Linked DNA regions of Homo sapiens. The protein of the gene in region 2 purifies or fractionates together with the protein of the main gene of each other region. This does not show direct contact. Each region holds a gene or a part of one and is shown on either strand. Other genes may lie near its edges. The genes, in order: RNASEH1, RNASE3, RCN3, GTPBP2 and CRIM1.

The links.
Region 1: the proteins of RNASE3 (region 2) and RNASEH1 purify together in Homo sapiens (co-immunoprecipitation; one large-scale study listed by IntAct). This does not show direct contact.
Region 3: the proteins of RNASE3 (region 2) and RCN3 purify together in Homo sapiens (co-immunoprecipitation; one large-scale study listed by IntAct). This does not show direct contact.
Region 4: the proteins of RNASE3 (region 2) and GTPBP2 purify together in Homo sapiens (affinity purification with mass spectrometry; 2 studies listed by BioGRID and IntAct, with this or other methods). This does not show direct contact.
Region 5: the proteins of RNASE3 (region 2) and CRIM1 purify together in Homo sapiens (co-immunoprecipitation; one large-scale study listed by IntAct). This does not show direct contact.

Annotation. Positions count from the first base shown.
Region 1 is NC_000002.12:3,554,566-3,561,303, reverse strand, and holds the start of RNASEH1 (ribonuclease H1 isoform 1 precursor), read left to right. Parts: upstream 1-2,970; 5' UTR 2,971-3,043; coding exon 3,044-3,171; exon of another isoform or gene 3,172-3,409; intron 3,410-3,460; exon of another isoform or gene 3,461-3,629; intron 3,630-4,399; coding exon 4,400-4,515; intron 4,516-6,738. UniProt on the Homo sapiens protein: Endonuclease that specifically degrades the RNA of RNA-DNA hybrids.
Region 2 is NC_000014.9:20,888,580-20,893,750, forward strand, and holds RNASE3 (eosinophil cationic protein precursor), read left to right. Parts: upstream 1-2,805; 5' UTR 2,806-2,872; intron 2,873-3,102; 5' UTR 3,103-3,107; coding exon 3,108-3,590; 3' UTR 3,591-3,769; downstream 3,770-5,171.
Region 3 is NC_000019.10:49,525,144-49,531,844, forward strand, and holds the start of RCN3 (reticulocalbin-3 precursor), read left to right. Parts: upstream 1-2,859; 5' UTR 2,860-2,915; exon of another isoform or gene 2,916-3,238; intron 3,239-3,323; 5' UTR 3,324-3,329; coding exon 3,330-3,571; intron 3,572-6,701. Other genes in the region: FCGRT (IgG receptor FcRn large subunit p51 isoform 1 precursor), read left to right, coding at 314-430, 867-976. UniProt on the Homo sapiens protein: Probable molecular chaperone assisting protein biosynthesis and transport in the endoplasmic reticulum.
Region 4 is NC_000006.12:43,625,446-43,631,973, forward strand, and holds the start of GTPBP2 (GTP-binding protein 2), read right to left. Parts: upstream 3,820-6,528; 5' UTR 3,718-3,819; coding exon 3,532-3,717; intron 3,472-3,531; exon of another isoform or gene 3,344-3,471; intron 3,145-3,343; exon of another isoform or gene 3,114-3,144; coding exon of another isoform or gene 3,072-3,113; intron 1,897-3,071; exon of another isoform or gene 1,834-1,896; intron 1,504-1,833; coding exon 1,477-1,503; intron 966-1,476; coding exon 781-965; intron 420-780; coding exon 311-419; intron 116-310; coding exon 1-115. Other genes in the region: MAD2L1BP (MAD2L1-binding protein), read left to right, coding at 4,305-4,324.
Region 5 is NC_000002.12:36,360,693-36,366,749, forward strand, and holds part of CRIM1 (cysteine-rich motor neuron 1 protein precursor), read left to right. Parts: intron 1-6,057. UniProt on the Homo sapiens protein: May play a role in CNS development by interacting with growth factors implicated in motor neuron differentiation and survival. May play a role in capillary formation and maintenance during angiogenesis.

The DNA.
Region 1 (6,738 bases), on a different chromosome or scaffold from region 2:
AGAAATGGTTTTGTTATTCCTAATTTACAGAGTATAATAGATAATGGCAATAGTGACTTTTATTTGAGTTTATGTCATGTGTCAGGAATAGGCTATGCATACATTTATTATTTCATCTAAAATCTCATCCTCAAAACAAAAGCCTTTTGCAGTGGGAATTATCACTCCCATTTTTTTTTTTCAGTAGAGAAAATTAAGTTTCAAAGGAGCTAAGTGACTGAGACCACATATACACTCATCTTCTGATTTCTGATCCAGTGTTTGCTCAGGATAAGAAATGTCCTATATTTCTATGAGCCAGAGATTAAGATAAAAAAAGATTTTCAGGAGTAACCAGTCAATGAAAAGTCAAAATAAATAGTTTTGGCAGCCGGGCGTGGTGGCTCATGCCTGTAATTCCAACACTTTGGGAGGCCGAGGTGGGCAAATCACTTGAGGTCAGGAGTTCAAGACCAGCCTCACCAACATGGTGAAAACTTGTCTCTAAAAATACAAAAATCAGCTGGGCGTGGTGGCGCATGCCTGTAATCCCAGCTACTCGGGAGGCTGAGGCAGGAGAATCGCTTGAACCCAGGAGGCAGAGGTTGCAGTGAGCCAAGATCATGCCACTGCACTCTAGCCTGGGCGTTGGAGTAGGACCCGGAAAAAAAAGAAAAGAAAATAAAGAAAGAAGAAAAGGAAAGAAAAGAAAGAAACAAGAAAAGAAAGAAAGAAAGGAGAAAGAAAAGAGAACAAAGGAAGAAAAGACGAAAGAAGGAAAGAAGAAGGAAGGAAGGAAGGAAGGAAGGAAGGAAGGAAGGAAGGAAGGAAGAAGGAAGAGAGAGGGTTTTGGCACTGTGGAAAGTCATGTGGATGATCCTGCAAGCGTCCTCAGGTAATTCCAACCTAGGACTTCTCAGGGAAGATGAGTCCTTGTGATACAGGACCAGCCAGTGGGCACAGAAAAGCAAGCCCTTGGTAGGTCAACCCTCAGATATGCTGACGAGGTGGGGGCAGCTGTCAGGTCATCCTGAGAGCCTTCCCGGGCATCTCTGGGCTTCCTCAGATATCTACACAAGGGTAGGATGATCAGTCATAAATGGACTTTAGGGACAGCTGTGTGTGTCTTTTTATTTTAAAATAAGAATCCGTCTTGAAGTGCAATAGGTAGGAATGAGGAATGAAAGCTATGGCCAATTTAAATTAAAATTAGGAAAGCTGAAATGTTTAAAATTGATGTTCTTTGGCCAGGCACAGTGGCTAATGCCTGTAATCCTAGCACTTTGGGAGGCTGAGGCAGGCGGATCACTTGAGGTCAGGAGTTCGCAACCAGCCGGGCCAACATGGTGAAACTCTGTTTCTACTAAAAATACATAAAAATTAGCCAGGCGTGATGGCGGGCGCCTGTAATCCCAGCTACTTGGGAGGCTGAGGCAGGAGAAATGCTTGAACCCGGGAGGTGGAGGTTGCAGTGAGCCCCAATCGTGCATCGTGCCACTGCACTCCAGCCTGGGCGACACAGCAAGACTCTGTTTAAAAAAAAAAAAAAAAAAAAAAAAAGATGTTCTTCGATTTCACAGAGGAACACAACTTACCACGCCAATGTACGCGTCGCTTTTGCCTGGGCCGTTCCTTCTTCCTAGAATGTCCTGCTTCTTTCTCTTTGTCTAACTCATGTGAATGAACTTTTTAAAAAATTAGTATCCTTCAAAACTGTATTTGCTCAGGCGTTCTGATGTGAGGCCCTCCTGACTCTCCAGGTGCGGGTGCTTCTCTGCTCTGTGTCTCTCACCTCCAACAGCTTGTTCTGCCTGCGCACTATTTGCTGATGTGTTATCTCCGGGGATTCTCGAATTTCTCACCTTCATCCCCAAGGCCTGACAAAATACATGGCAGGTGTGCAAAAGGCTTGTTAGAAGACCTTAAGAAAATTAAAGAAAAGTGGTTTAAAAATAATTCGAATAACAATGTTTGCCAATGGAGACTTTTTTTTTTTTTTTGAGACGGAATCACGCTCTGTCGCCCAGATGCAACCTCCACCTCTCGAGTTCGAGCGCCTCTCCTGCTTCAGCCTCCTGAGTAGCTGGGATTACAGGCGCAGGCGACCACGCCCGGCTAATTTTTGTATTTTTAGTAGAGACAGGGTTTCATCATATTGGCCAGGATGGTCTCGATCTCCTGACCTGGTGATCCACCCGCCTTGGCCTCCCAAAGTGCTGAGATTACAGGCGTAAGCCACCACGCCCCTCCAACCCATGAACACTTTTAAAATTACTTGATTTGCTTACAGAGCAAAAGGTCAAATGGGGAGAATTCTAAAAGTTACCTTCTCAACTCAGTTTTCTCCCGGGTCGTGGTGCTTGAGGCACTGGATATCCCCTGGTTAAACACCCACGTGCAGTGGAGCAGGGAGGGGACGCGCCCCTTCGGGGGTGGGCGCCCAAGGCAAGGGGAGGAATGCGGCTTCCACGGCCTCCCCTCTCGCCCTCCTTTGTGCTTATTCTAATTCATGAATTCTAACATCTTTCTGCCCACTAAAAAATGTGCATTCATTCATCTGGCCACAGCCCTTACTGTAGATCCGCATCCCTGGAGCTCTCGAGGAGCCGCGGTTACCGCACGTGGGTGCCGGGCGCCAGGGGGTTCAAGGGCTTCCCGCGGTGACCCGAGCACGCCGGGGCGTGGCCCCCGAACTGCGGCCTGGGGGCGGGGAGAGAAGGGGCCCAACATGGTCCATCTCGACCTTCCTCTGCCGGGCCCAGGGCTTCAGCCCCGCTCCCATAGGCCCCGCCCCATCCCAGACCTCGCCCGCCTTCGGGATCTCAGCCCTGGCTCCGCTTCTTCAAGTACCGACAGGAAGTTGACGAGTTCGGGCTCGTCAGGGGCCGAGCTCCGGGCTCCGCCCTACGACACCGCCCCTCCCTAGGCCCCGGCCCTCATCAGGACTCCGCCCAGACGTGCGTCATCTTCCCGCGCCGGTGACGGAAGTGCGGTGTTGAGCGCCGGCGGCTCGCGCCCACGCTGGGCCGGGAGTCGAAATGCTTCCCGGTGCCGGGAGTGAGCGATGAGCTGGCTTCTGTTCCTGGCCCACAGAGTCGCCTTGGCCGCCTTGCCCTGCCGCCGCGGCTCTCGCGGGTTCGGGATGTTCTATGCCGTGAGGAGGGGCCGCAAGACCGGGGTCTTTCTGACCTGGTGAGTGGCCCGCCCGCCGAGGCGCCTCCCTGCCGGCATCGGGGTCGAGGGAGGCCGGAGCCCGGCTAACCCCGGCGGCGGGAGCCTGGCGGTCCGAGTCTGTGCCGCGCGCTGTGGCTGTGGGTGGTCGGGGGACCGCCTCGTTTTCCTGCTCGGCCGGCGGGGTTCCAGGAGGCTCATGGCCTGGGACTGGAACGCACCGAAGACTTGTTTGAAATATCAGAAACGTCGCGTAAAGGTTAGGGGTGGCCTAATAAACCCTGTGTTTAATCCTCCATCTTTGTTGCAGTTAAAGTGCAACAAAAAGTGACACGTAATCAGAACGAACCCCCGTTACCAGAAGACTTTCCGTACCAGCTAAATTGGGATTGGAACTCAGTACCTAATCTTCCCTTTTAAAAAAGGCAAATTCTAATAAGCCAGTATTTGCAGTTGGATCCTTGTAACAACCCTTGGAGGTGAGAGGGATTATTCTCACTTTCAGGTATAGTTCTTGGGGTCAGGAAGTTCCCAGGGCATGTAACTGACAGAGAAAGGACTTGAGCCCAGCTGTTCTGACTGTACCACCAGAACTCTTCCCACTACAAGATACCAAAGTTCGTTACCTGTGTTTCCCCATGCACGGCAGCTACAGTATTGAGGAAGAAGCATCTCAGAAGTTGACCTTTTTGTTGTAAAGAAATGGTTAATATTTTTTTCAAAGACCGCAGTATTTTGTTATGCTTTGAGTTTGACGAAAGCCTTATGGTGCTGGTGTGCTGGCTGGCTGGCATACAGTAGAACACAGGTGTAGAGTCTGACGTGCAGGATAAAACTATAAGGTGCGACTCTGCCCTTTTCACGCAAAAATTGGTCCTCTATATCCAGTTTGCATCCTCAGTTTCAGCTAACCATAGATCAAAAATATTTGGAAAAAATTAAAATAGAATACAGTTTTAAAATACGCATAAAAAGACAATACAACTATATAGATTGTATTAGGTATTATAAACTAGAGATGATTTAAAGCATGCAAGAAGATGTGTGTGGGTTATTTGCAAATACACCATTTTATGCAAAGGACTTAAGCATCCTCTGATGTTGGTATCTGTGATGGGGTGGAGGACTTCCTGGAATCAGTCTCCCTCAGATACCAAGGGACAACTGTATTTCCAACCTTAAGAATCTCAATAAAAAAGGGGATAAGTTAGAGAAGGAAGAAGGAAATAACATTGCACATCTTTTCCAGGAATGAGTGCAGAGCACAGGTGGACCGGTTTCCTGCTGCCAGATTTAAGAAGTTTGCCACAGAGGATGAGGCCTGGGCCTTTGTCAGGAAATCTGCAAGCCCGGAAGTTTCAGAAGGTAGTCACCTCTCATATCAGTGTGACATTTTAACCTATTCAAAGGCTTTCATATGCCAGATGGCATTTGATCTATATAGCTACCCTCTAGGCATGTAGGGAACCTCGTGTGATTGTTTTCATTTTACAAATTAGGGAACAGACTGAAAGCAGTTACAAATAGTGGTTCATATTACTTACAGTATTAGGGATAAGCCAGGACTCAGCTCTCCTGTTCCATTCAGCCTTTTATGCCATAATTCCTTGTCTTTTTTTAAAAAAATACTTGTCCAGCCTGGCCAACATGATGAAACTCCATCTCTACTAAAATACAAAAATTAGCTGGGCATGGTGGCGCACACCTGTAATCCCAGCTACTCGGGAGGCTGAGGTGGGAGAATTGCTTGAGCCCGAGAAGTGGAGGCTACAGTGAGCCGAGATTGCACCACTGCACTCCAGCCTGGGTGACAGGGCAAGACTCGTCAAAAAAAAAAAAAAAAAACTTACATAGTTATTGGACTGGATGGGCTACAGTTTACAGGAATGAGTGTGGTTCTTTCCATGGCATGCCCCTTTGTGGTGTTGCCTTTTTATTGAGAACAGAGTCACACAATCTGAATTTCTTCTTTTTTTTTTTCCTTGAGACAGAGTCTCTGTTGCGCAGGCTGGAGTGCAGTGGCACAATCTTGGCTCACTGCAGTCTCTGCCTCCTGCGTTCAAGCGATTCTCCTGCTTCAGCTTCCGGAGTAGCTGGGATTACAGGTGCGTGCCACCACGCCCGGCTAATTTTTGTATTTTTTTTAGTAGAGATGGGATTTCACCATATTGGCCAGGCTGGTCTTAAACACCTGACCTCAAATGATTCACCTGCTTTGGCCTCCCAAAGTGTTAGGATTCCAGGCATGAGCCACCACGCCTGTCCAATTTCTTCCAATTTTATGTGTTATAGAAAGTACGGTTATTCAAAGTTTAAAGCCCAATATAAGATTAATTCCCAATATAATTGGAAGTTTAAAGCCCATTATGCAGACTCAGATGAGCAGGGTGACGACTTTAGAGCGCAAGATTTTAAAAATATTTCTGGATCTACACTGAGGAGGTGATCTTACGTGAATGTTACTTACAAACTTTTTACTATAGCAAATTAAGACTGAGCAGAGCATAGTTTTAATTACCTTATCTTGAACAGCCTCTCTAGAGGCCACTGAGATGCTTGAACCTGAACAACTGCTCCTTCGAATCATCGTAACAATCCTGGACAAAGCACAATTCAGAGCGAGGCAGGTTGTGTCCAGAATGGATCCCTGAAGAGTTAGTTTGCAAAGCAGGGTCGACCCTCACTCAGTGCATCTGCTTCACCCTCTCTCTCTTCAATAGCTTTTAAAGGAGATTCTGTTTGAGAATGAGGACACGTGAAAAAGGCTCATCGATGTGACAGTTCTTACTGCTTACTGCATGACAGCCAATAAGCTGAGAGACAAGGTGTTGGGGCAAGGAAGGCGACTTTTTTCCGAGAGCCAGCAAGTCAAGAAGATGGTGGACTAGTGTCCTGAAGAACCATCTTAAGTTAATAGAACTTGAGACTTCTTTTATGTTAAGGGAAGGGGAAAGAAAGGCGGAGGTGAGATCAGGAGGAGACCGATGAGCACAGACATCTGGATGGCAGCGAGGGTCCAAGGGGATTGTGAAACTTCTCTGTCCTTGGTCAGGCCATGATGCTCCTCCTATAAGTCTTCAACATAACATTGTTATTTGTGTGTACTCCCTCTTTATCTCCTTGGGGGTTAGTTTTGGGAACGGACCACTGTCATCCTTGCTTTAAACTATAAATTCTTCCCATAGTTCACTCGGCCTATACGATACCACTATGGGGATGTTAAGGGAGAATGGAGGCAGTAATGCTGAGCCGCCTCCTCGCTGTTACAGCTGTTCATTTTTCTACCCAGATGGAAAAATCAGTTTGAGACAGAAAGCAGGTTTGAAAATATGGCTTTTTCCTTCTTTGCTGGGTTCCTGATACTTCCTTTTCTTAATTTTCCTTTTCAGTTTTCCTTTTCACAAATTTTTTGTTTTTAACCAATCAGTAATTTATTTGTATCTCAAGTCTTCCAATATAAGTATGTTTCTGTTTTTATTAAGTACTCTGACTCTTAAAGCAAGCTAGTTCTTTTGAATCTACTTCTTTAAACTTTAGAGACCTCCTAGTCAGTGACTTACGTCTATAAATTGAGATTTAGTGCCTTTA
Region 2 (5,171 bases):
TTTACCACAAATGCAGAAGTCTTTGTCTGGGATAATATTTTACAATGTTCATCGGTTTCCAAAAAATGACTTAACACTAGGGCGTAATTCTGACTATTCCTCTCATTGGAAGTGTGGATCAGGTCTGAAAATGTGTCGTTAAATTAGGCTGCAAGACAAGTTATGCTAATAAAATAAAGAGCCCGGGTGAAGTGCCTTGTGTCTGTTCAAGACAAAATCATGCTGAAGTTACAGAGAATTTTGTTTCGATTACAGAGATCATAACAGATAATTTTCTTTAATGTTGACTTATACTTTATTCCTGCTTCATATAAAACATCTTCTCTCAAAGGTCATAAATATCAAAGTAGATCATTTGTACTACTTCTGCTGGCAAATGAAGGTAGTTGGAAATGTACGCAGGAAATCTACACAAGGGACAATCAGAAAAACCTTATGAGCATGTTCTGAATGCAATTTTTATGGCTGGGAGCAGTGGCTCATACTTGTAATCCCATCACTTTGGAAGGCCGAGGTGGGCGCATTACCTGAGGTCAGGAGTTTGAGACCAGCCTGGCCAACATGGTGAAACCCCGTCTCTACTAAAAATACAAAAATTAGGCGGGCATTGTGTCGAGCGCCTGTAATCCCAGCTACTCAGGAGGCTGAGGCAGGAGAATCACTTGAACTTGGGAGGCGGAGGTGGAGGTTGCAGTGAGATCACGCCACTGCAGTCCAGCCTGGGTGACAAGAGCAAGACTCCGTCTCAAAAAAAAACAAAAAACAAAAAACTCCACAATTTTAAAGGATGAATATGGTTGCAAATTGGGCAGGTTATGGTCTGCTTAAGACACTTCAATAAGTCTGATATGTCATAAGCACAGATGTCTTCAGGAGCCAGGCAGGTGTCATCACTGAACAGATAGGATAAAAGTCAGGAGGGAGAGTGGAGTCAGAGAACAGCCCTGAGCTAGAGCCCCTTCCACAGACGCAGCTGTTACTCAGCTCTAATTGATACAACACCAATGGTGCACCAACCACCATCATGTGATTTTTAAAGATAAGACAGTAATGAAAACTTTTAGTGAACTATTCCAATGTCAAACTTTATCTTCCAAACCAAACATCATAAATAGCACTGTGTATGCTGAAAAGAAGCACTGTTTAGCCAAGTACCTGCCCTGGGGCTGCAGTCTATGTCTTTTGCCTCATACTATAGACACTTAAGTGCAAATGTTTCTAGCCAGTGTGGCTGTCAGCATCACAGAGGGGATACTCTACGTATCATTCACCTTTACATTCTCATCACCTACAAAAATGATCTCCACACAATATACATGAAAAAATAAACTTGCCTCATGATAAAGCTGCTAATGAATGTCGGCCAGAACAGGACTTCAAGGCAGAGCAATATTAGCTGCGCATTGAGTCCTCACCAGGTCACCATTGTGTCCACATTTACCTAAGGACCCCAGTGATAAAATTATTGCATTTCTAAATGACAGGAAAATTGGACGGTAGTAAAAATTAGGCAGATTAACTGTTGGAAGGTATATTATATCATTTAAGGGTCTACTTTCCATTTTCTAATCTCAAAGCTAGACCAGATTTAACATCTGTTAGTACCCAGGCCTTACCTTTGCAATTCACTTCTCACCTCTGTACAATTTCCCCACATCATCCCCTGTGCCCAGAATGCTCATCTCTTCTCTAAATCCCCTGAAAATCCCCTGCTTATCCTTTAGGACCTGCTGAAATAAACTTTTTTTTGAAGTTTTCCTTATTTCTCAAGCCAAGTGATTTCCTTCACCAGCAGTGTCCCTATGACACCATGTTCACACAAATGCTATTACCTCTATCACACTGTAATACAATTATATGTCTACAAGTACTTTCCTGTGTTTCTCTGAGGGCCAAGAATAAATGTATGCTTTGTGTATCAAACTGTACACTTGACCTCTATACTTTCAGGAATACAGTGCTCTGTCCTTAAATGTTCATTTGTAAATACAGAACCATATTCTTGTTAATATCACAAAATGAAACTTACCAGGAAGATGAATGACAACCCCAGAACACACTGTTTTGTAGAAAATACCATAGGCTGAAAAGATCACAGGAATACCGAGTGCTAGGTTGGAATCTTTCATGACACCAAATGTTCATTCATCCTCTGCCAGATTTTACAACTGTCCTCGGTGTGTTTTTAGGTTATGTAACTTTACACAAAGTGGAATCAATAATCAGGGCAAGACTTAAGAGAAAGTGGATCCAATGCAAGAGGAGTAAAGAAAAAAATTCCTCAATTGTATGGAGCAGATTGTTTTAATTATCTACAGAATCTTGTGCCCCAAGAAATTAATAGCTCAAGTTTCCAGCAAGAGTGGTGGATGAGATGGAGAGCATTTATGTGAGAGAGAACCAAGGATATTACTAAAAATGGAAGGGAAGCTGGGTTTCTCCTGGGCAAACAGCCCTCTGTGGCTCTATTTCTCCTAACTACTATGCCTGCCTTCGTGTCATTTAGTCATTTAGGGGCCTGCCAGAGGACAGTTATAAAATCTGTGGTCATTCTGCCGGCAGCGTATAGTTTTCACCCAGAGTCCAGATCCCACCGGCAAAACTCTGTCTAACACAGGATGACTTGGAATTAGAGTCCGTATAGCAGAAAGAGCAGCAGGGCTGTCCTTGGGTATCCGTTGCTCAGCCAAGTCATCAAATAAAAAGGATGATTGCACAAGTGGACCATGTGTCAATCTGTGGGTTTCTGCATGGCCAGACCCACCAAGGGAAGCTTTATTTAAACAGTTCCAAGTAGGGGAGACCAGCTGCCCCTGAACCCCAGAACAACCAGCTGGATCAGTTCTCACAGGAGCCACAGCTCAGAGACTGGGTAAGTCAACAATCCCCAGAGCTGGGACAGGAGGGGCAGCGACAGGGCAGCACCTGAGGGAGAGGTGAGCTGAAGTTAGTGCTTAGGAGATGTGGCACACTTTGGGGACAGGAAGAAAAGGAAATGCGACCCCAGAGTGGCAGCAGAGGGGCCTGTGGGTTGAGACACTATAGAGTGTGTCATAACCGAGACCGGATCGGGGAGTAGTTACTTCTCTTCTTTTCTTACAGGAAACATGGTTCCAAAACTGTTCACTTCCCAAATTTGTCTGCTTCTTCTGTTGGGGCTTATGGGTGTGGAGGGCTCACTCCATGCCAGACCCCCACAGTTTACGAGGGCTCAGTGGTTTGCCATCCAGCACATCAGTCTGAACCCCCCTCGATGCACCATTGCAATGCGGGCAATTAACAATTATCGATGGCGTTGCAAAAACCAAAATACTTTTCTTCGTACAACTTTTGCTAATGTAGTTAATGTTTGTGGTAACCAAAGTATACGCTGCCCTCATAACAGAACTCTCAACAATTGTCATCGGAGTAGATTCCGGGTGCCTTTACTCCACTGTGACCTCATAAATCCAGGTGCACAGAATATTTCAAACTGCACGTATGCAGACAGACCAGGAAGGAGGTTCTATGTAGTTGCATGTGACAACAGAGATCCACGGGATTCTCCACGGTATCCTGTGGTTCCAGTTCACCTGGATACCACCATCTAAGCTCCTGTATCAGCAGTCCTCATCATCACTCATCTGCCAAGCTCCTCAATCATAGCCAAGATCCCATCCCTCCATGTACTCTGGGTATCAGCAACTGTCCTCATCAGTCTCCATACCCCTTCAGCTTTCCTGAGCTGAAGTCCCTTGTGAACCCTGCAATAAACTGCTTTGCAAATTCATCTGGAAGTGTCTGTGTGTCTTCCTCGGCCGCTCTGCTGTCATTTAGTGACAATCTGCTCTAGAGATTTGGGTTTATCATGAATCTCTCCCCCTCAATATCTGACCAAATTCCTTAATTCCCCCATCATCCTTCATGTGATACCTGATTCCAGGCCTGCCTTAAAAAAAAATCCAATTGAGTCAACTTAGCATTGGTCTCCCTAGCCTTAATATCTCCTCTAAGCAATTTTCCATCCACTGACTCCTCCCCCAACACCAACCTATAACTTGTGTATAGATCTCCACTTGTTTTAGTTGTATTCCAGAATTGAGCCCAATTTGATATTGAGGTCCCATTTGATGCTTTATGGTCCGACTATGGTTTTTATTGACATGATTTCTATCCCAAGAAAAAAAGAGCTGCAGTGAATCAGCTGAAAATGCACGTGCTTCATTATGATTTATGAATGATAAATTTTGATAGAATTGAACGTTATGATAGAAAATAGAAAAGAAGAAAGTAGAAAAAGTCAAGAATGCTATAAATAAGGTGAAACCAAGATAAAGAAAAGTTTAGCCTCAGGGATATTTCTTTTAAATGGGCACATCAAGTCTCCAGCTATTAGCAATCGTAATAGAGGTGGAACCAGGGTTTGAGTCAAATGTGCAATAAGATAAATTGTTCCGACAGCAGTAAGGACAGATTGTAATGCTGACTGGAGGAGAGGTGGACATCTTTCCCAAAAGTTCCATGTCCTGGAGATGGGGAGCCGCTGGTCACGTGGGAAGGAGAAGGGGGAGGAGGAGGAGGAGGAAGTGGGAGCACTCATGAAGGTGAGTTGGCTCCTGCCCATTCTGCCCTCCATAGATGTTCCCAATGGCGAGTCAAAGGTTCATTCAACACCTGTCAGGAAGGGCACAGCCTCGAGAATTCAGGATTTGTAGACCCAGAGAGAGAAGAAATGGATGATGAGAGCCGCTGCCCTGGACTCCAACACAGGGCTTCACTCAGGAATCCATGAGAAACAGGGGAGAAAAAGGGGAAGCCCCTTCCTGCAAGTTGTGGACAGGTGCAGCATTCAAGTGATTGTTCCAGGAACAGAGTGGGTCTTTTTGAATGGCCCGACTCAGAATGCAAGAGAGGTACGATGCCATCAGATCTGCACCTTGGTCCTTCAGTCTGAGATTTCTGACTTCTATATTTCTCCTCCTCTTCCAGACCCTGAGAAACAGCAATTTCCATTCCTCAGATGACTCCATGTCAGTAATGGTGCTTTAATTGGCATCAGACAGCAGCTGTATTGAAGTCTCTCCTCTGGAGAAGCTATTGAGATCTTGCTTCTCCAAGGTCGGGCTGTGAACTTAAAAGTTTGCACAGAGACACTGAGTTTGGGAAATCTCAGTGCTCAACAGAATCCACTG
Region 3 (6,701 bases), on a different chromosome or scaffold from region 2:
TTTGCTACTGCCCGGGCCCATGAGACTGACTTCCCACTGCTCTGCCTGCCTCTCCCCACTGCACTGGCACAGCCCCGCCTTGCCGCTGCTGATCCATTGCCGGTGTGACCGCGGCCGCTCGTGCTGTAGCTGGTTCTTACGTCCAACCTGGGGGCAGTCTGCCCAGATCGCCTGCCTGGCCTCGCCTCTGCCCATCAGACACTTGGTGCTGGAATCTCCGAGGCTGGGAGGGACTGGGAGCGCCCCAGTTCTGTGTCCTGACTGGGTGGGGTGGAGGGGCTGCTCCACATCTCACAGCGTTCTCTGGCTGCAGAATCTCCAGCCAAGTCCTCCGTGCTCGTGGTGGGAATCGTCATCGGTGTCTTGCTACTCACGGCAGCGGCTGTAGGAGGAGCTCTGTTGTGGAGAAGGATGAGGAGTGGGCTGCCAGGTGGGGGGCAGCGGGAGGAAGAGCCTCTGAGAGAGGGACAGAGACCCCAAGAGAGGGGCACACAGACCTGGGAGGACAGAGACCCAGAGAGGGGGGACAGAGATCAGAGAGAGGTGGAGACAGAAACCCAGAGATGGGAGAACAGAGGTGCAGAGAGAGGGGGACGGAGACAGAGACCCAGAGACGGGGGAACAGAGACCCAGAGGGGACAGAGAGAGGTGCGGACAGAGGGAGGGGGAGACAGACCCAGAGGAGGGAGGCAAAGATGTAGAAAGAGGGGGGACGGAAAATTGGGAGAAGGGGAGACAAAGGCCCAGAAGGAAGGGGATAGAGACTGAGGAAGAGTGTGTGAGACACACACACAAATGGGGGACGCCAGTCAGACCCAGAGCGCCTCAGAGATTCTGATGACCTCTCCCTCTCTCTCTCTCCTCAGCCCCTTGGATCTCCCTTCGTGGAGACGACACCGGGGTCCTCCTGCCCACCCCAGGGGAGGCCCAGGATGCTGATTTGAAGGATGTAAATGTGATTCCAGCCACCGCCTGACCATCCGCCATTCCGACTGCTAAAAGCGAATGTAGTCAGGCCCCTTTCATGCTGTGAGACCTCCTGGAACACTGGCATCTCTGAGCCTCCAGAAGGGGTTCTGGGCCTAGTTGTCCTCCCTCTGGAGCCCCGTCCTGTGGTCTGCCTCAGTTTCCCCTCCTAATACATATGGCTGTTTTCCACCTCGATAATATAACACGAGTTTGGGCCCGAATCAGTGTGTTCTCATCATTTTTCAGGCAGGGGAGGTAAGGGAATAAGTCGGGGGACTGAATGGCGGCTGGGCCTCGGATCTCTCCTACAGGTAACATGCTGCCACAGGGGAACCTGCCAGTTTTATACATCAGGTCATGTATTTTCTTTTTCTTTTTCTTTTTTCTTTTTTTTTAGACGGAGTCTTGCTCTGTTGCTCAGTCCGGAGTCCTGTGGCGCGATCTCGGCTCACTGTAAGCTCCGCCTCCCTGGGTTCACGCCATTCTCCTGCCTCAGGCTCCCGAGTAGCTGGGACTACAGGCGCCTGCCACCATGCCTGGCTAATTTTTTGTATTTTTAGTACAGACGGGGTTTCACCATGTTAGCCAGGATGGTCTCGATCTCCTGACCTCATGATCCACCCGCCTCTGCCTCCCAAAGGGGTGGGATTACAAGTGTGAGCCACCGCGCCCGGCCTAAGGTCACTTTTTTTTTTTTTTTTTAAGACAGAGTTTTGCTCTTGTTGCTCAGACTGGAGTACAATTGCGTGATCTCAGCTCACTGCAACCTCCGCCTCCCAGGTTCAAGCAATTCTCCTGCCTCCCAAGTAGCTGGGATTACAGGCATGCACCACCACACCCGGCTAATTTTTTGTATTTAGTAGAGACGGGGTTTCACCATGTTGGTCAGGCTGGTCTGGAACTCCTGACCTCAGGTGATCCACCTGCCTCAGCTTCCCAAAGTTCTGGGATTACAGGCATTGAGCTACTGTGCTCAACCTGAGGTCATGTATTTTTAATTCATAACTTTTACAAATATTTACTGGATGACTGCCATGCCAGGCATTTTGAGGAATTCTTGGCTACTGTCTGACCACCTGAATCCTTGGAGCCGAAGAGGAGCGAGGAGCAGTGTTCACTCTTGGAGGAAATGGGATATTTCCTCCGGCCCCTTGATTCTGCTCTCCCTTTTCTTTTCTTTTCTTTTCTTTCTTTTTTTTTTTGAGACGGAGTTTCGCTCTTGTTGCCCAGGCTGGAATGCAATGGTGCGATCTCGGCTCACCACAACCTCCGCCTCCCAGGTTCAAGCAATTCTCCTGCCTCAGCCTCCCAAAGTAGCTGGGATTAAAGACATGCGCCACCACACCCGGCTAATTTTGTATGTTTAGTAGAGATGGGGTTTCTCCGTGTTGATCAGGCTGGTCTCGAACTCCCGACCTCAGGCGATCCGCCCGCCTCGGCCTCCCAAAGTTCTGGGATTACAGGCGTGAGCCACCGCGCCCGGCCTTTTTTCTTTTCTTTCGTTCTTTTTGTTTATTTTTGTTTTGTTTTGTTTTGTTTGGTATAGAAGTGTTGGAACGTACACCTCTTTCTTAAACCATCCTGACAAAGGGAAAGGGAAAAATACATTTCCCGTGAGGCGTTGTGACTAGAACAGCTGGAGGTGGACGGCAGAGTGCCGCGACGACTGCCAGGAGTTGTAGTTCTCCCCGGCCGCGTCACTGCGGTGTCGCCCACCCTTCTTCCCCGGGCAGGCCGCGGTTTCCTTTGTGGACGTGGCGAGGAGTGCCCGCGGCACCCCGTGCACTCATTGGCCCCGCCCCGTGAGACGCTCGTGCGAGCTCATTGGGCGGGGGGCGGGGCTCTGCGCTGCCAGAGGCGGGGCCTGACTGGAGAGCGGCCGAATTGGGCACATTTGCGGGAACGCAGAGCGGAGCGTGGAGAGCGGAGCGAAGCTGGATAACAGGGTAAAGGGAGTGGGTGGGGGGCCTCTGTCCAGGGAGGGCGGCTCGGGTCGAGGACCAGGGTCCGGACTGGGAGCAATGACGGGGAGCCTGCCTGACCTCTCGCTGGCCACAACTATGCCCTGCACCTTGCGTGGGATGTGCGCCACGTCTGTCTCTGTAATTCCCCCTGGCAGGTCTGGGACCCCCCTGAGACTCCGTCAGAAGATTCGGTCCTCCCCATAGGTGGCTTTACCTCTAAGCATCCCGCCCTCTTTTCCCCCATCGCCCGCCCTTTTTGAGCCCGAAAGCTTGCAGCCAACTTCCAACTCCCTGTCCTGTCCTAGGTAACCCCTCCACCCCGCCATTCTCCTATCCCGTGTCTGTCCCCATCCCTGTGACCCCTGACCCCTGGCCTTTGCCACTCCCCAGGGACCGATGATGTGGCGACCATCAGTTCTGCTGCTTCTGTTGCTACTGAGGCACGGGGCCCAGGGGAAGCCATCCCCAGACGCAGGCCCTCATGGCCAGGGGAGGGTGCACCAGGCGGCCCCCCTGAGCGACGCTCCCCATGATGACGCCCACGGGAACTTCCAGTACGACCATGAGGCTTTCCTGGGACGGGAAGTGGCCAAGGAATTCGACCAACTCACCCCAGAGGAAAGCCAGGCCCGTCTGGGGTAAGAGAGACATTCGGTTGGGGCGTGTCCAGAGGTGGGGCTTAGGAGAGAGACGCGGGGGTATCGACAGGGGTCAGAGAAATGGCGTGGACTGAACTTCATTTCTTTGTGAGAAATGAAATTCTACCTTCTATCCTTGGGAAAAAGAAATTAAGTTAAAATTGAGGCCTAAAGAGGACCTTTGAGACCGGGCGTGGTGGCTCATGCCTGTAATCCCAGCACTTTGGGAGGCCAAGGCAGGCCGATCACTTGAGGTCAGGAGTTCGAGAACAGCCTGGCCAACATGGTGAAATCCCGTCTCTACTAAAAATACAAAATTAGGCAGGCGTGGTGGTGGGCACCTGTAATCCCAGCTACTCGGGAGGCTGAGGCAGGAGAATCGCTTGAACCTGGGAGGTGGAGGTTGCAGTGAGCCAAAATTGCACCACTGCCCTCCAGTCAGGGCGACAAAGTGAGACTCCGTCTAAAAAACAACAACAACAATAAAAAAGAGGACCTTTGAGGGCAGCAAAATCTGGGTTAGATTCTGCCCCCTAAGCGCTCCTTATTCTTTTGTCCCAGACATCTCCCCTCCCCAAGCCTCAGTTTCCTGCTCTGTAAATGGCAGGGACTGGTGTGGAAAATGAGGTTTGGCCTTTAAGGAGCCCGGCCAGTGCAGGAGAGTGGCAGAGCCCTGAGTTTCAGGGTGAGCTGGGTGGAATGGAGCCCTGTCCACCCTCTCCGTCCAGGCCTGAGCGCAGGGGGGCGCGATGGGAGCAGCCGCCTTCTTCTGTGCATCCTCCTGACACTGATTGAGCCTGCAAAGGTTTATCGAGCACCTGCTATGTGCCAGGCACTGCTCTAGGTGCTGAAGTCACAACAGCTAACACATCTGTCCTCCTGAAGTTTACACTGTGGTGAGGGAAACAGCAAGAAGTCAATAAGTAGAAAGTGGATCAAATAGAGATAAATGCATCCAAGAAAGATAAAGCAAGAGAGTCAGAAAGTGTGGAGGGGAGAGGTTGTTGGTGGGGGGGAGTTGCAATTTTTATTTATTTATTTATTTATTTATTTACTTATTGAGATGGAGTCTCGCTCTGTCACCCAGGCTGGAGTGCAGTGGTGCGATCTCGGCTCACTGCAACCTCCACCTCCTGGGCTCAAGCAATTGTCCTGTCTCAGCCTCCCAAGTAGCTGGGATTACAGGCGCTAGCCACCACGCCCAGCTAATTTTGTATTTTTATTTTTTATTTTTATTTTTGTTGTTGTTGTTTTTGAGATGGAGTCTCGCTCTGTCACCCAGGCTGGAGTGCAGTGACGTGATCTCGGCTCAGTGGAACCTCCGCCTCCCGGGTTCAACCAGTTGTTCTGCCTCGTACTCCCTAGTAGCTAGAGTCCTAGCTACAAGTGAACGCTACAAGTCCTAGCTACAAGTGAACGCCTCCACATCCAGCAAAGTTTTTTTTCTTTCCTTTTTTTTTTTTGGAGACAGAGTGAGACTCTGTCTCCCGGGCTAGAGTGCAGTGGCGTGATCTCAGCTCATGCAACCTCTGCCTCCCAGGTTCAAGCAATTCTCCTGCCTCAGCCTTCCGAGTAGCTGGGACTATGGGTGCACGCCCACACGCCCAGCTAATTTTTTTTTTTTTTTTTGTATTTTAGTAGAGATGGGGTTTCACTGTGTTGCCCAGGCTGGTCTCGAGCTCCTGAGCTCAGGCAATCCGCCCGCCTTGGCCTCCCAAAGTGCTGGAATTAATGCGTGAGCCACAGCACCCAGCCCAGGCCCAGGTAATTTTTCTTTTTTTTCTTTTTTTTTTTTTTTTGAGACGGAGTTTTGCTCTTGTTGCCCAGGCTGGAGTGCAGTGGCGCAATCTCGGCTCACCACAACCTCCGCCTCCTGGGTTCAAGTGATTCTCCTGCCTCAGCCTTCCGAGTAGCTGGGATTACAGGCATGCACCACCATGCCCGGCTAATTTTGTATTTTTAGTAGAGATGGGGTTTCTCCATGTTGGTCAGGCTGGTATCGACCTCCTGACCTCAGGTGATCTGCCCACCTCGGCCTCCCGAAGTGCTGGGATTATAGGCATGAGCCACCGCACCCGGCTGGAGCTGCAATTTTAAACAGGGAACTTGGACAAGGCCTCCATGAGAAGGTGGTATGTGGTATTTGAGCCATGTGGGTATCGGAGTGAATAGCATTCCAGGCAGACAGAACAGTTAAGTGCAAAGGCCCTGAGGCAGGAGTGGGCTTGGAGTGTCAGAGCAACAGTTCTGAGGCCCGTGTGGCTGGAACTCAGTGAGAAAGGGGAGAGAGTGGGAGGTGAGGGCAGAGAAGGAGCAAAGGGGTTCAGCATGGTGGTTCATGTGTGTGATCCCAGCACTTTGGGAGGCCAAGGCTGGGGGATCACTTGAGCCCAGGAGTTCAAGACCAGCCTGGGCAACATAGTGATACCCCGCCTCTACAAAACAAATACAAAAATTAGCCCAGCATGGTGGCGTGCTCCTGTAGTCCCAGATACTAGGGAGGCTGAGGAGGGAGGATCACTTGGGCCTGGGAGGTCAAGGCTGCAGTGAGCCAAAATCATGCCGCTGCACTCCAGCCTAAGCAACAGAGCAAGACTTTGTCTCAAAAAGAGAGAGGGCCAGGTGCAGTGGCTCACGCCTGCAATCCCAGCACTTTGGGAGTCCAAAGCGGGCGGATTGCCTGAGACCATGCAAAGGGGGTCAGATCATGCAATGCAAAGCCTTTTAGGCCACGATGAAGATTTAGGCTTTTCTCCAATTGAGAGTAGAACTGAGGGAGGGCATGAGCTGACTTAGGTTTTGAGAGAATCCTGCTGGCTGCGAGGTGGGGAACAGACTGTAGGGAGCAAGAAGCAGGGAGCCCAGTGAGGAAGCGACTGCGATAGTCCAGGTGGAAGACAAGACAAGATGGTGGTCAGATCAGGGTGGAGACAGTGGCAGTGGTCCCCAGGACTGCTGGCTGGGAGATTGTGCTTGGATGGGCATGCATGAAGGAGAAATGGAGGAAGAAGGGCAGTGACAGGTTAGCACATTTAGCTTAGCACTAATGGCAATGCCAGGCATTGTCCTAAGTGCTTTATTATTGTTATTATTATTATTATTTTGAGACGCAGTCTCGCTCTGTCTCCCA
Region 4 (6,528 bases), on a different chromosome or scaffold from region 2:
GGTTGAGCCGAGCCCGGCCCCGCCCATTGTCCAGCTCTCCCTGGGTCAGGACTCCAAGCAGAGTTGACTTCCCAGAGTCCACATTCCCCAGGACGGCCACACGGAGGTCTAGGAACTGTGGATGAATTGCCAGAGATAAGAACTCCAATCTCTCACCCCTCTAACTGAAGACTGGGTCAAGGGCAGTGACGCTCCCTAGGGAGCAAGTGATGAACTGGAAGCCCCCAGGATCCCAGGCCAGGAGACAGCCTGCCACCACAGGGCCCTTCCACAGTGTGGACATGAGAGACAGGGATGGGTGTGTGCTCACCTGTTGGTTGTCAGGGACCTTTCGTACTAGCACCTCGGTGATCTTCCGGGGCATGTCGCTATCATAATCCACTTCTCGCTCTCGAAGAACGGTTATGTCTGCCCCAACCCTGTCACAGCAAGGCCACAGCTGCCATATCTCACCTGTCCTTCTCCTATTCCAGGCTCGCTCTGGACCTACAGACTTCCTGCACCTCCCACAGAGCTCCCAATACCTTAGTGCACTTCCTACCACCCTCCAATCTATTCCTCATTCACAGTTCCCTTTAAAACAAATATACATATCTTAATTCAAGGAGCAAAACAGCCTAGGTCCAGTGAGGAGGGGACCAAAACACTAACCCTCCCCACTTCAGCCCTTTGTCAAGAGAAGGAAAGTCCCACCTTGGCCCCTCAGGCCCTAGGTAACTGGGTATGCATGGGTCCCCCCAAGTCAGGTAAAGGAGAACTGGTGGGGAAGGGGAAGCATACTTCTCTGCCATCCGGTGCAGGGTCTTGAGCGAAGCTCGCATTTCCTCCTCAGCCAGCCCCACCAGCAGCCCATTGTCCTCTACCCCAATCTGGTAGACGGCCTCACCACGTCCCTCCTGGAGCCGCCACTTCATTTGTGTCACCAGGTGCTCAAAGCGGTACTGGGATGGATTCACCAGCTTCAACTTAGGGCAAGTGGGGTATCATAAGGTGAAATCAGAGGTGTTCCTCCCAAACCTACATGGTCCCCACCTGTTCTGCTGCAAGGACCAGGACTTTCTCTTTCCACTTAAACTCATACCTGATCCCCCTCCAACAGAACGAGGTACAGAGCCCTTAACCTGAACCATATCCTTAAACTGCTATAATTATGAAGTTGGAAGGCTCTCAGAGAACTTATCCCATGCTGGTGGATCACCAGAGGTCAGCAGTTCGAGACCAGCCTGACCAACATGGAGAAACCTCATCTCTACTAAAAATACAAAATTAGCCAGGCATGGTGGCGCATGCCTGTAATCCCAGCTACTTGGGAGGCTGAGGCAGGAGAATCTGAGATTGCGCCACTGCACTCCAGCCTAGGCAACAAGAGCAAAACTTCATCTCAAAAAAAAAAAAGAAAGAAAGAAAAAAGAAATTATCCCACACTGGCAAGGACAACCTACCCCAGCCCCTGCTTTTCCCCAGCCTAGGACTCACTTTATATTCAATGTTTCCATCTTCAGCCTGAAAAGAAACAGTGAGCAGTTACCATACACTGTACAGACCCAATCCCTACTTCCCCTCAATTCCCACTGGGTCCAGGTAGCTAACTTGAGAAAGCAGGAAGCCCCACTGGCACTTGGTTAGGCAAGTGCCTGTCAAAGGTCAGTGGCAGACAAGATCCTCTATTCACCCCCAGCATAGCCTCTATGAAGGGAAGGCCTATAAGGACACAAGGAGTCACCCATTTAAGCCAGGAACAGAACACTGAATCAATCCATTCTTTGATCACTGGCAGCACGTTCTTCCTAGATGCAAGATCATCCCTTCCTCCCCACCTCCAGGGCCTCAAACCTGCTTTTCCCAGAAGTCTATGTCTCCTCTGTGCCCAGGCTGTTAAAACCTTTCTTTGTCACTGGTCTAGGAAACACCATTTCCTCCCTGCCTGCCCCTTTCAGCTGATGTCATCTAGAGTAAGAGGCTGCAAGAGGTTCTGGATCAGAGCCAAAGGGTGAGCTCAGCAATGGTCACTACAAGCCTGATGACCGAGAAGATCTAGGTGAGAGAGGAGAAGAGCTCCAAAGCTGGGGCTGAGAGGAACAGAAAAACTCAGAAAATGTAATGAAGCGGACAGACTCGCTATGGCCTTTACCTCTTGCCCCCTAACCTCAGTGGAGGTGAAATCCTGAATCCACCCCACAGTCTCTTCTAGCTCCAGTGGGTAGCACAGCACAGAAGCACCCTGTTACCTGAGGCTTCCCCTCCCAGGTACAAAGGGATATGGGATTTGCCTGTTTGGCCAGTCTGCATTTTTCTACCCGCCTCTCTGGATATTTTAGTTTTCCTCTTCCCTTCCTATCATTCCATCCCTTCAAGGCTGTCTGGCTCCCAGGCCCTAACAGGTCTTCACTCATAATCTCCACTTCATGGTGTGTTAAGGAGATTATTTTTTTTCCCCATCAATAAAAACCTTTTAATCATTTTTCTGGGGATGGGTGGCTTCAAAAAATGTGGTACAAGAATGACAGTCTAGGGCCCAGACCAATGGTTCCCAAAGTGAGGTCCTGGGACCAGCAGCATTAGTATCACACGGGAACTTATAAGAAATGCAAATTCTCAGGCCCATCCTCACTAGTAAGAAAGAATCAGAAATTCTAGGCTGGGCACGGAGGCTCACGCCTGCAATCCCAGCACTTTGGGAGGCCGAGGCGGGTGGATCACCTGAGGTCAGGAGTTTGAGACCAGCCTGGCCAACATGGTGAAACCCCATCTCTACTAAAAATACAAAAATTATCTGGGCGTGGTGGCGGGCACCTGTAATGCCAGCTACTCGGGAGGCTGCAGCAGAAGAATCGCTTGAGAACCCGGGAGGCCGAGGTTGCAGTGAGCTGAGATAGCCCTACAGCACTCCAGCCTGGGTAACAGAGACTCCGTCTCAAAAAAAATAAATAAATAAATAATAAAAAAATAAAATTGGCCAGGCGTTGGGGGCCAGCAATCCGGGTGATTCGATACATGCCAAAGTTTGATAACCACTGGCTTAGGCTGTGTGTGTGTGTGTGTGTGTGTGTGTGTGTGTGTAGTGAACATACTGCTCTTTTCCCGAGTACTGTGTGTGTGTCCGTGTGGAACATATTGCTCTTTTCCCGGGTACTCCCCTTCTCCCTGTGGAACAAGTTTAGAAGAAGTGGTGGTTACTGTCTGCCTCTCGTCCCAGGATGCAGTCTCTCTTGCCCTATGGCGGCACACGCAGTTGGTCGGGGTGCTCTTCCTGGGATCCCCTTTCTCTACTTCTCTCCTGGGGTAATCTAGATCAGAAGGGGGAGTCCTCCCTCTCCACTCTTCCTCCCTGAGGTCCTGTCACCTGAGAGTCCAGTCTCTGCCCTTCCTCCCTGGGGTCCCGGGACCTGAAAGAGGTGTTCTCCTCCCGTGCCCCTCCTCCCTGGGGTCTCGACACCGGAAGGGGAGATTAATTATCTGGGTCCCGCCTCCCTAGAGTCCTGGGCCGGAAAGAGTGGCTTCTTCCCGCCCTACCACTTCTCAGGTGCTCACCTCGGGGGGCAAATACGGGGGGTTGTTGGCTTTGCCCCCTCTGTTCCTTCCGTTCTTCTTCTTTCCCTTTGGCCCCCCGCAGCCGCTGCTGCTGCCGGCCCCCCTAGCCTTGAGGGTTCCGCCCACGGCCGGGCCCCCTCCGGGCCGGCAGCAGCCGCCGAACAGCTCCGATACCCGCGAGTCCATCCGCCGCTGCCGCCAGCCCCCCGCCCGGCCCCTCCCCCGACCGCCGCCGCCGTCGCCGCCGCCCTTACTGCCACTGCCGTGTCCGGCCGGCCTGAGCAGAGTGGGGTGGGGCTCTGCACAAGCTACGCCCCCCACCTCCCTGGCCTCCGGGTCGCGTCAGAAACAGCCGCGGGGCACCACGGGATATAGAGTCCCCAGGCCTGGGAATTCACTTAAATGACACGTCGCCGCCCTACAACTCCCAGGAGGCATCGCGGCGCAAGTGGCCGCGGGAGTCGTCGGAGGCGTGGGGAAGGAGCGCGCCTTGGCGCGCAAAGGCTTAAGGGAGCTGTAGTCTGACTTCCAGTCCTCGCGCTATGTTCTTTTTCTAGGACTTGGGGGGAATTTAGAGCCTCGAGGCCTGGGGTGGGGACGCGAGGACACCAGCGTAGAAGAGCTTACATCAGAATCGAGCTTTGTGGGCGCTCCGGGATTTGGCCCTTTAGCGCGGATCCTAGACAACAGGTTTTGGACCTCGAGAGCTGCAGAACTGAGGCTACTGGTGCCGCCAGCCTGCTGGCTCCGCCTCTGCCTCAGTTTCTTCCCCTATGGCCCGCGTGCCGCTGGGGTGAGTCAGGGCGAACGCCAGGGCGGAGGCGGATGGTGATTAGCCAAATTACGGCTGTTATTGTTGGGATGATTATGCTACCTTTACATAGTAGTCACTGCTTTATTACCAGGCTGGCACCGTCCAGGGGCTGGTTTTAATAACCGGAGGCACCGCGGTGGCCCCGACACGAGACCCGAACCCGTAAACCAGCTTCCTCCCCGAAGGCTGCAAGCATACCCAAAGCGAGTATTCCTCCTCCCCTTTGTTTTGAAGCAGAACCAATCGGGAAGAACTGAGTTTGGTTTTAAACGGCCAAGACTGTAGGAGGGGCCTGGCCCCTACTTCGGGCGGGGCTAGGGCTCGGGTTACACCAACCACCACGAGGGCGGGGCAGTGGCCGGGAATAGAAACTTGGCCTAGGGCCACAGGGGATTTTTGGCTTTTGACTCTCTTGTGAAGCAATCTCCAGCTCTTTAGTGCTGTTGCACTCTACAGAGTACATACATTCAGCGACATAAGCCAGTGCACAGAACACAGAAAGGCAGGGTGGAAAAGCAGTTATGTTGCTGAGCTGCGAGTCAGGACGCTAGGGCTCAATTCACAGCCGCATGGCTGTCTCATGACTCAGACCACTCACAGTGTGTCCACTTCTCCCCTCTTCTCGAACTGCGAGGTGCTCATACACGGTCAAGAAATTAAACAACTCAGCCGGGTGCGGTGCCTCACGCCTGTAAATCACAGCACTTTGGGAGGCCAAGGAGTGTGCGGATCACCTGAAGTCAGGTGTTCGAGACCAGCCTGGCCAACACAGCGAAACCCCGTCTCTACTAAAAATACAAAAATTAGCTGGGCGTGGTGGCGCATGCCTGTAATCCCGGCTGCTCGCGAGGCTGAGGCAGGAGAATCGCTTGAACCCGGGAGGCGGAGGTTGCAGTGACCCGAGATCACGCCATTGCACTCCAGCCTGGGCAACAGAGCGAGACTCCAACTAAAAAAAAAAAAAAAAAATTAGCCCAGCATGATGGTGCACATCTGTGGTCCCAGCTGCTCGGGAGACTGAGGCAGGAGAATCGCTTGAACTCGGGAGGTAGAGGTTATAGTGAACTGAGATCATGCCACTGCACTCCAGCCTGGGTGACAGAACGAGACTTCGTCTCAAAAAAAAAAAAAAAAAAAAAAAGAAAGAAAAAGAAATTAAGCAACTCTTCTCTCCAGACCTCAGTTGTCCTTGGAAAACTAGAAGCAGCAATAATGACTTACCTCTGGTGATCCCTTCAGGGGTTCAGACTTGGTAGAGTCCATGGCTTCCTCCCAGGGCCACAAGGAGGGAGGCAGGTTTACTGATCATGCTGTCCACATAGCATAATTTCCCAAAGCAGTGAGAGCAGAGAGACCAAAATCTGCAAAAGGGCCTAGCTGACCATAGGCCAATTATGTGGGTCTTCAGTGGTTGAAAGCACATGTGACTTTTCTTAGTCCTGTGCCACTGAAGGAAAGGTTATGCCGTAGAGGTCAATGCTAGCCAGGGGCACAGGCCTACTAGGGAAACTGCTGCTTAGAGACAGAGACTAGGGAACTCAGTGAGAGATCTCAAGAAGGATGAGAATTGGAAGGAAGAGATAAGACCATTCTCCCAACATTCTCACCATGACCAGCCCTGGGCCCTCTTGATAACCAGAGCCTGCTGCACTTGTCTGATAACATGTGTCCCTTCATATACATGGATTATTTTTATTTTTATTTATTTTTTGAGACAAGGTCTCCCTCTGTCACTCAGGCTGAAGTGCAGTGGTGTGATCACAGCTCATTGCAGCCTCAACCTCCCCTGCTCAAGCAGATCCTCCCACCTCAGCCTCTGGAGTAGCTGGAACTACAGGTGCGAGCCACCATGCCCAGCTAATTTTTGTTTTTATTGTTTGTAGAGATGGTGTCCCCCTGTGTTTCCTAGGCTGGTGTTGAACTGGGCTCAAGCAATCCTCTTGCCTTGGGTTCCCAAAGTGCTGGGATTACAGGCATGAGCTGCCACACCTGACCTACTATTTTATTTATTTATCTATTTATTATTTATTTAATCCCAGCATTTTGGGAGGCCGAGATGGGAGAATTGCTTAAAGGCAGAGGGATTGCTTGAGTCCAGAAGTTGTTGTTGTTTGTTTGTTTGTTTTTTGATGGAGTTTCGCTCTTGTTGCCCAGGCTGGAGTGCAATGGCGCGATCTTGGCTC
Region 5 (6,057 bases), on a different chromosome or scaffold from region 2:
CTGCAGGAGGCCAGATAATGAACCCAAACATTTCATTCTGCACAAGCCGCATGGAAACTACTCTCACCACTCTGTAGTAGGGCCTGAAGTTAAGAGTCCACGAATTTTAATTCACTCATTAAGTAACGGGAGGGGGGCAAAATATCAGCTTCTATAGTTAGAAAAATTAAGCTCTTGGCTTTGTTTTGGAATAATGGGTTTCATTTTTCCTCTCAGAAGTCCTTAGGTAGACAGGGAGCCCTTAGATCCCAGAGAGGAACAAGCAGAGGGCCTATAACATTATGTTAACAGGGAATGGGAAGAGAAACCAACGAAGTAAACAAGGAAATAATTAGTTCCTCCCAAAAGTAAATATTGGCAAAACATGGAGAGACCAACTATTCACTGCACTTAAATAAATGACAGGACTCAGTGACCTTCACTTTGATTGCCAGGCTTATAGAATCTTCCCTGTTATTGAGGAGTCCTGTCACATAAAACACTTGGCAAAGGGCAGATGGATTGTGTATTATCAGAATGGCAAAAATAGCAAGTCTGGAGATATTTGTTGCCATTCACACATATTGTACACTGACCAGGAAAATCTCCAAGCAAGAGGTTGGCAGTAGGGTTGTAAGCAGTCAGATTAATATATGAAGAAAACTGAACAGTCCTTAATCTGTGTAGGCATTACATCCATTTGTAGGAGGTATTTGGTGACTTGGTACAGGTTTCTTTGTTTTGTGTGGTTTGTTGAAGATGCAATGACCGGGATGAATGAGTGAACAGCTGGGTGAGGCAGGGGATGGGCATTATGAAGTTGGGGGATATATTGTAGATGAAACAGATGACCCTAAGGAGGTAATGAGGGGGTGGACTAAAGAATGACGAATGGGAGAAGGGAAAATATTGAATTCATCTTAGCACAAGTATATCATCCTTTGAAGAATAATCCAAAACACATTCCAGACATTAATTGTGAAATTCCTGAAAAATGTGGGTGTGCTTAACATCTCCCAGGCTATGGTGCAAGCAGAGATGATAGTGTTGCTTTAGCCTGTAAATACAAGAGGGTAGGAGGTGGTAAAATGAGTGGAAGGGAAATACATTTAGTGAAGCGGGTTCCTGTAACACTGTGTTCCGTATGGCACGTTTGGTATCAGGATTTTGGAGACACCCCAGTAAAGCTCATTTAATTATTTGAGGGAGAAACAGTAGACTAGCCAAGCATGCATGAATAACACATTGAAAGCTTTCCTTCTCAGAGGTCTAATTCTGCAAAGCTGCATTTTCAAAGATCTGACTTGCCTTTGCATGGAAATCAGTCATTCATTCATTGGTCTTCTATGCTGTACAAGGCCTTCTGCTGGGGTGAGGGGGAAACTAGGGAGCCCGGGGACCTCTCCAACATATTCTTTGCTCTGTACACTTAATCAAGATAAGAAATAAAGACAGCAAGACTGCAAAAAGTCTATTATGTAGACTTGCAAAAAGTCTACATAATAATATAAATTCAAGCCAAGTAGAAGTGATTTTGCAAGTCTGTGTATGATTAATTGGCTAGTGAAATATATGGATAAAATTAGTTGTAGGAATTAAAGCATCTGAAGTGATCTCTTGAGGCTCTGGTGGCAAAGCAGAAAGGGGAATTTGAATTTGAACTAGGTTTAAAAGTGTGAGTAGTAGCCCTTTCTTTTGGCAGGGGAGGTGATCCTACCCATTCTCCTTAGAGCCTGTGCAATTGGTCTCAGTGTTTCTCAACATCTAAGAATGAAGCTGCATTCTTAATGCTTTAGTAGCTGTGCTTCAAAACGGCAAGTTTCCTTTTGAGAGTGATTTTCTCTTTGTTCTAGCTTGTTTCACTAGGCGGATAAGCGTGGGCAGTAAACTGGGAGGTGTCCCTTTATCAGCACCTCTCAGCTTCACCCACCCTGCTGCTTGCCCTGGGCAGTAGCCTGGTCACATCTTTGAAAACCTCTGTTTAGTCAAGACTTCCTAAGTCAAGACAGAGGAATGGTTGAATATACCTCTATGTAAGAATACCCTCAAGGTAAACACTAAACTCTTACGTGTTTTATCTTGGGCCCACATGAAAAAAGTAAATGTTTTTAAAGAACCTATTTTCCTTTGTTAGTTGCAAAGTGAACAGGTATCAATTCCTTACCTCCCTCCTCCAGTCCCAGTTAATTCCCCACATGAAAATACCTACATGTTGGTGGAAAAGTGTAATGTTCAAGAACTTGGGGCCGGCCGTGGTGTCTCATGCCTGTAATCCCAGCACTTTGTGGGGCTGAGGCAGATGGATCGCCTGAGGTCAGGAGTTCAAGACTAGTCTGGCCAACATGGTGAAACCTTGTCTCTACTAAGAATACAAAAAAATTAGCCAGGCTTGGTGGCAGGCCCCTGTAATCCCAGCTACTAGGGAGGCTGAGGTGGGAGAATTGCTTGAACCCAGGAAGCAGAGGCTGCAGTGAGCTGAAATCGCACCACTGCACTCCAGCCTGGGCGACAAAGCAAGACCCTGTCTCAAAAAAAAAAAAAAAAAAAGAACTTGGTTTCTGGGGTCAAATCTGCACTCTGCTTCTGTGTGTCTCAGTTTTCTCATCTGTGTAGTCAGGTTAATGATAGGGTTGCTATAAGGACTCAGTGCATCCCTAATGAGCAGTTAAAAGAATGACTGGCACATGGAACATGCTTACTAACAAGGCTACTAACCAGTATAAGTGAAACAATTTTACTTGGGCTCAGTCTCTTGTTCTCTTAATCCCCATCTACCTCAGTCATTGATGGTAAGCAGTTAAGGAGGTTGGGCTCTTAGAAAGGGAGCAAATTGTTACTGAATTCAGCAGTCGTCGCCGCCCCCCCCCCCCATGACTATCTTTTTATACCTTGTCTAAATGATTTCTACAAAGTTTGTATATTTTGAGTAATGTTTTAGGTCTGATATTATTTTGCATTGATTTGTAGGAATTATAAATGTAACCATTTATCTGTGAACAAATAATTAAAAATACTTAATTTGGGGAGGAGGCGGGAACCTAGATGTGCTATAATCAGCAGTGTGCACTTTGCTTCACATTATCTTCTGGGAGGAAATTTTGCTCCTAGCTCCTGAGTGTGCACACTGATGACCACTGCAGGATTTGGCCTGGCTTGAGCAAAGAAACAGCTCGACGCCATGGGGGCTATGGTTCCAACCTGCTGCTGCAGTTGGTATAAACTAGGCAAAACCAGAAGTCAGAGGATTATCCATTCCTCTTGTTCTTTTTCTAGCTCTACCTGTTCTTCTGCCATTCTTCTGCCTGAAAATATTCATGAGCATCGCCTATGGGTCTTGTCTCTGTGCTTTACAGTAGTGACATCACTTGTGTAAGCCAGTTTTTCTGTTAGTCGTCGGTACCTCCTAGGTTCGCTGTGGGGGTTAAGTGAGATAAAACTGTGCTTCTGAAATTTTAGTGTGCACACAAATCACCTAGGTATTTAAAATTGCAAGTCTGATTAAGTTAGTCTGGGGTGATGCCTGTGATTCTACATTTCTAACAAATTTCTGGCTGATGCCAGTGTCACAGGTGCCAGGACCACACTTTTAAGTAGCACAAAGCTAGTACCTATGTATACAGCATGTATCACAGAGTATGCATATTAAAAGACCTGATAAATGTTACCTGCTATTATAGTCATTATTTTTCAGCCAAAATAAATAAGATATGGTCCTTGTTTTCACACAGGCCATGATCTGATGGTAAACTGGAAAAGCAGACAATTCATTACAATCAGTTCAGTAAGCCATGAGATAACGGAAATGCCAAGCATGTCAGGAGCAAGTAAGAGGGAGTCTAACCCAAATCTGACCACCAGGAAAAGTTTAGTGGAGGATGCAGCAACAAGAAAGACCTGAGGGTCTCCTCTCCTCCCTCCTTTTTTCCTGCACTTCTTGTGCAGGATGTTTTAGGAAAAAGAAAATAGGGCTTGGGGCTAGACAAACCTGCATTGAAATCTTAAATCTGTTATTTTTTTAATCGTGAGATCAGCTTGTTTAGTTTCTCTGAGCTTCAGTTCCCTCATCTGTGAAACTGGAATATTAATAGCTTTCTATTAAGTAAATATTGTAGTGAGGATTAGAGATTTATATATATGATTACATAGATGTATATATAAGATTGTGTGTGTGTGTGTATAGTATGTATGTGTATATGCTAGTTTCTGGTACCAAATAGATTTTTTAAAATAATATTAATTTTAATTTCCATTCTATTTTCTATCCTTTCCCATTTTCCTCTTTGTTAGCTTTCTCTGTAAGTTTAAAAATTTACCTTGTGGGCACACATTTCCTCCAAACTTAACTAAATCTCTTCAAAGGGGTGGGAGTTTCGAGGGGGAATTCAAATGTCAGATGTTTGTCAAAGAGAAAAGAACCGTGAAGTACCGAGAACAGGGGGCTGGGAATACAGGGTCTATGCACCAAGGAAACATGCGTTGGTTTGATCCAGTGCAACTACAGTTCCCAGCGCCTTTGGCATTTCAGCAGAATGTGAACACTTGCTTGATTTTGTGGTTTGAGCCCCTACATCCAAAGAGCTATTTCAAATTAATATTTATTTAAAAATGGCCTTTTAATATTAATGGCATATGGTTTTATGACAGTGAATTAAATTTCCTTTTATTGTTAGAACTTTTTGAGGATTTCTGGACATCACTGGAGACGTTGGAGACCCCAAGGATATAGCCAGGCCAGGTTGATATATCTCACTGAGGTTACAGAAGGAAGCAGCGGCAAGCCTAGCCGATTCAGAGACCACTGCGGGCTTGGGAATGAGCAGGAGAGGGTGTGAGGGCCAGAGGCCATCTGTGTTGCTTTTCTCTCTCCCAGTCATTCTAGCCATCTTTGATGTGGACTAATAGTCGAGGTTGGCCATGGGTTTGCACTGTCTCTAGGGAGTCTTTGTGATATAGTGCGGGGTAGGAAGAACACCTAGAATCAAAATATCTAATGTTACTAGCTGTTTAGTTCTTAGTGTGGGTATGGTCCCATTTTAGGAGAACAGAACTATGAACTATGTTTGTGTTTTTTTTTTTTTTTTGAGACAGAGTCTCACTCTGTTGCCAGGCTGAAGTGCAGTGGCATGATCTCAGCTCACTGCAACCTCTGACTCCCTGGTTCAAGCGATTCTCCTGCCTCAGCCTCCTGAGTAGCTGGGATTACAGGCATGTGCCACCACGCCCAACTACTTTGTGTATTTTTAGTGGAGACCACGTTTCACCATGTTGGCCAGGATGGTCTCTCGACCTCGTGATCTGCCCACCTTGGCCTCCCAAAGTGCTGGGATTACAGGCGTGAGCCACCGCGCCCAGCCCAGAACTACATTTGCTTAACTGTGACTCTTTCCTTTGTACCTGAAAATAAGTATCATTTTTATCCAGTAAATATTGGCTGATAATTCATAAGGCAGATGCTTTAAATTGGCTATTGTAGAACAAGGAGAAAGAACTTGATGAAGAGAAAAATCCTTGGAATCAGTGGTTTACAACTTTTTTTTTCCTTCCTGATGATCAAACCGTATTATCGCATAGTAGAAATTGGATTTTCTTCCAGAAACTACTTTAGTACCTCTCATTTGTAGCACTTCTATCAAGAGTGCTGGTATTCGGACATGTAACCTACAAACAAAATCAGAAAGATGTCAAAATAACACCCTAATTCAGACTATCCTGAGAACATTTGTCTTCTGAATATTTAAGAAAAAAAAATAAGTGTTAATTATATTGTAGGGTGTTACCATTTTGTATTTCAAGTTCCTGAGAAGAGAATTTGAACAGTTTGCTATTTGGAAATTTTAGCAACCAGCTACCTTGCCTATGGAAAGATTAAAAAAAAAAGGAGAGGGAGTAGATGGTGGTCCATAGGCTGTAACTGGAAACTATGCCTGTCTTATTTAGCATTTCAAAACAAAAACCATAAACAAACATCTCAGATTCAAAACAGAAAGGAATTTCTGGCAGGGCAGAATGAAACCTGAGACTGCAGAGTCCCAGTCTACAAGAGGTAACTTATTTAGCTTCTTATCCAAAGGCCACAGC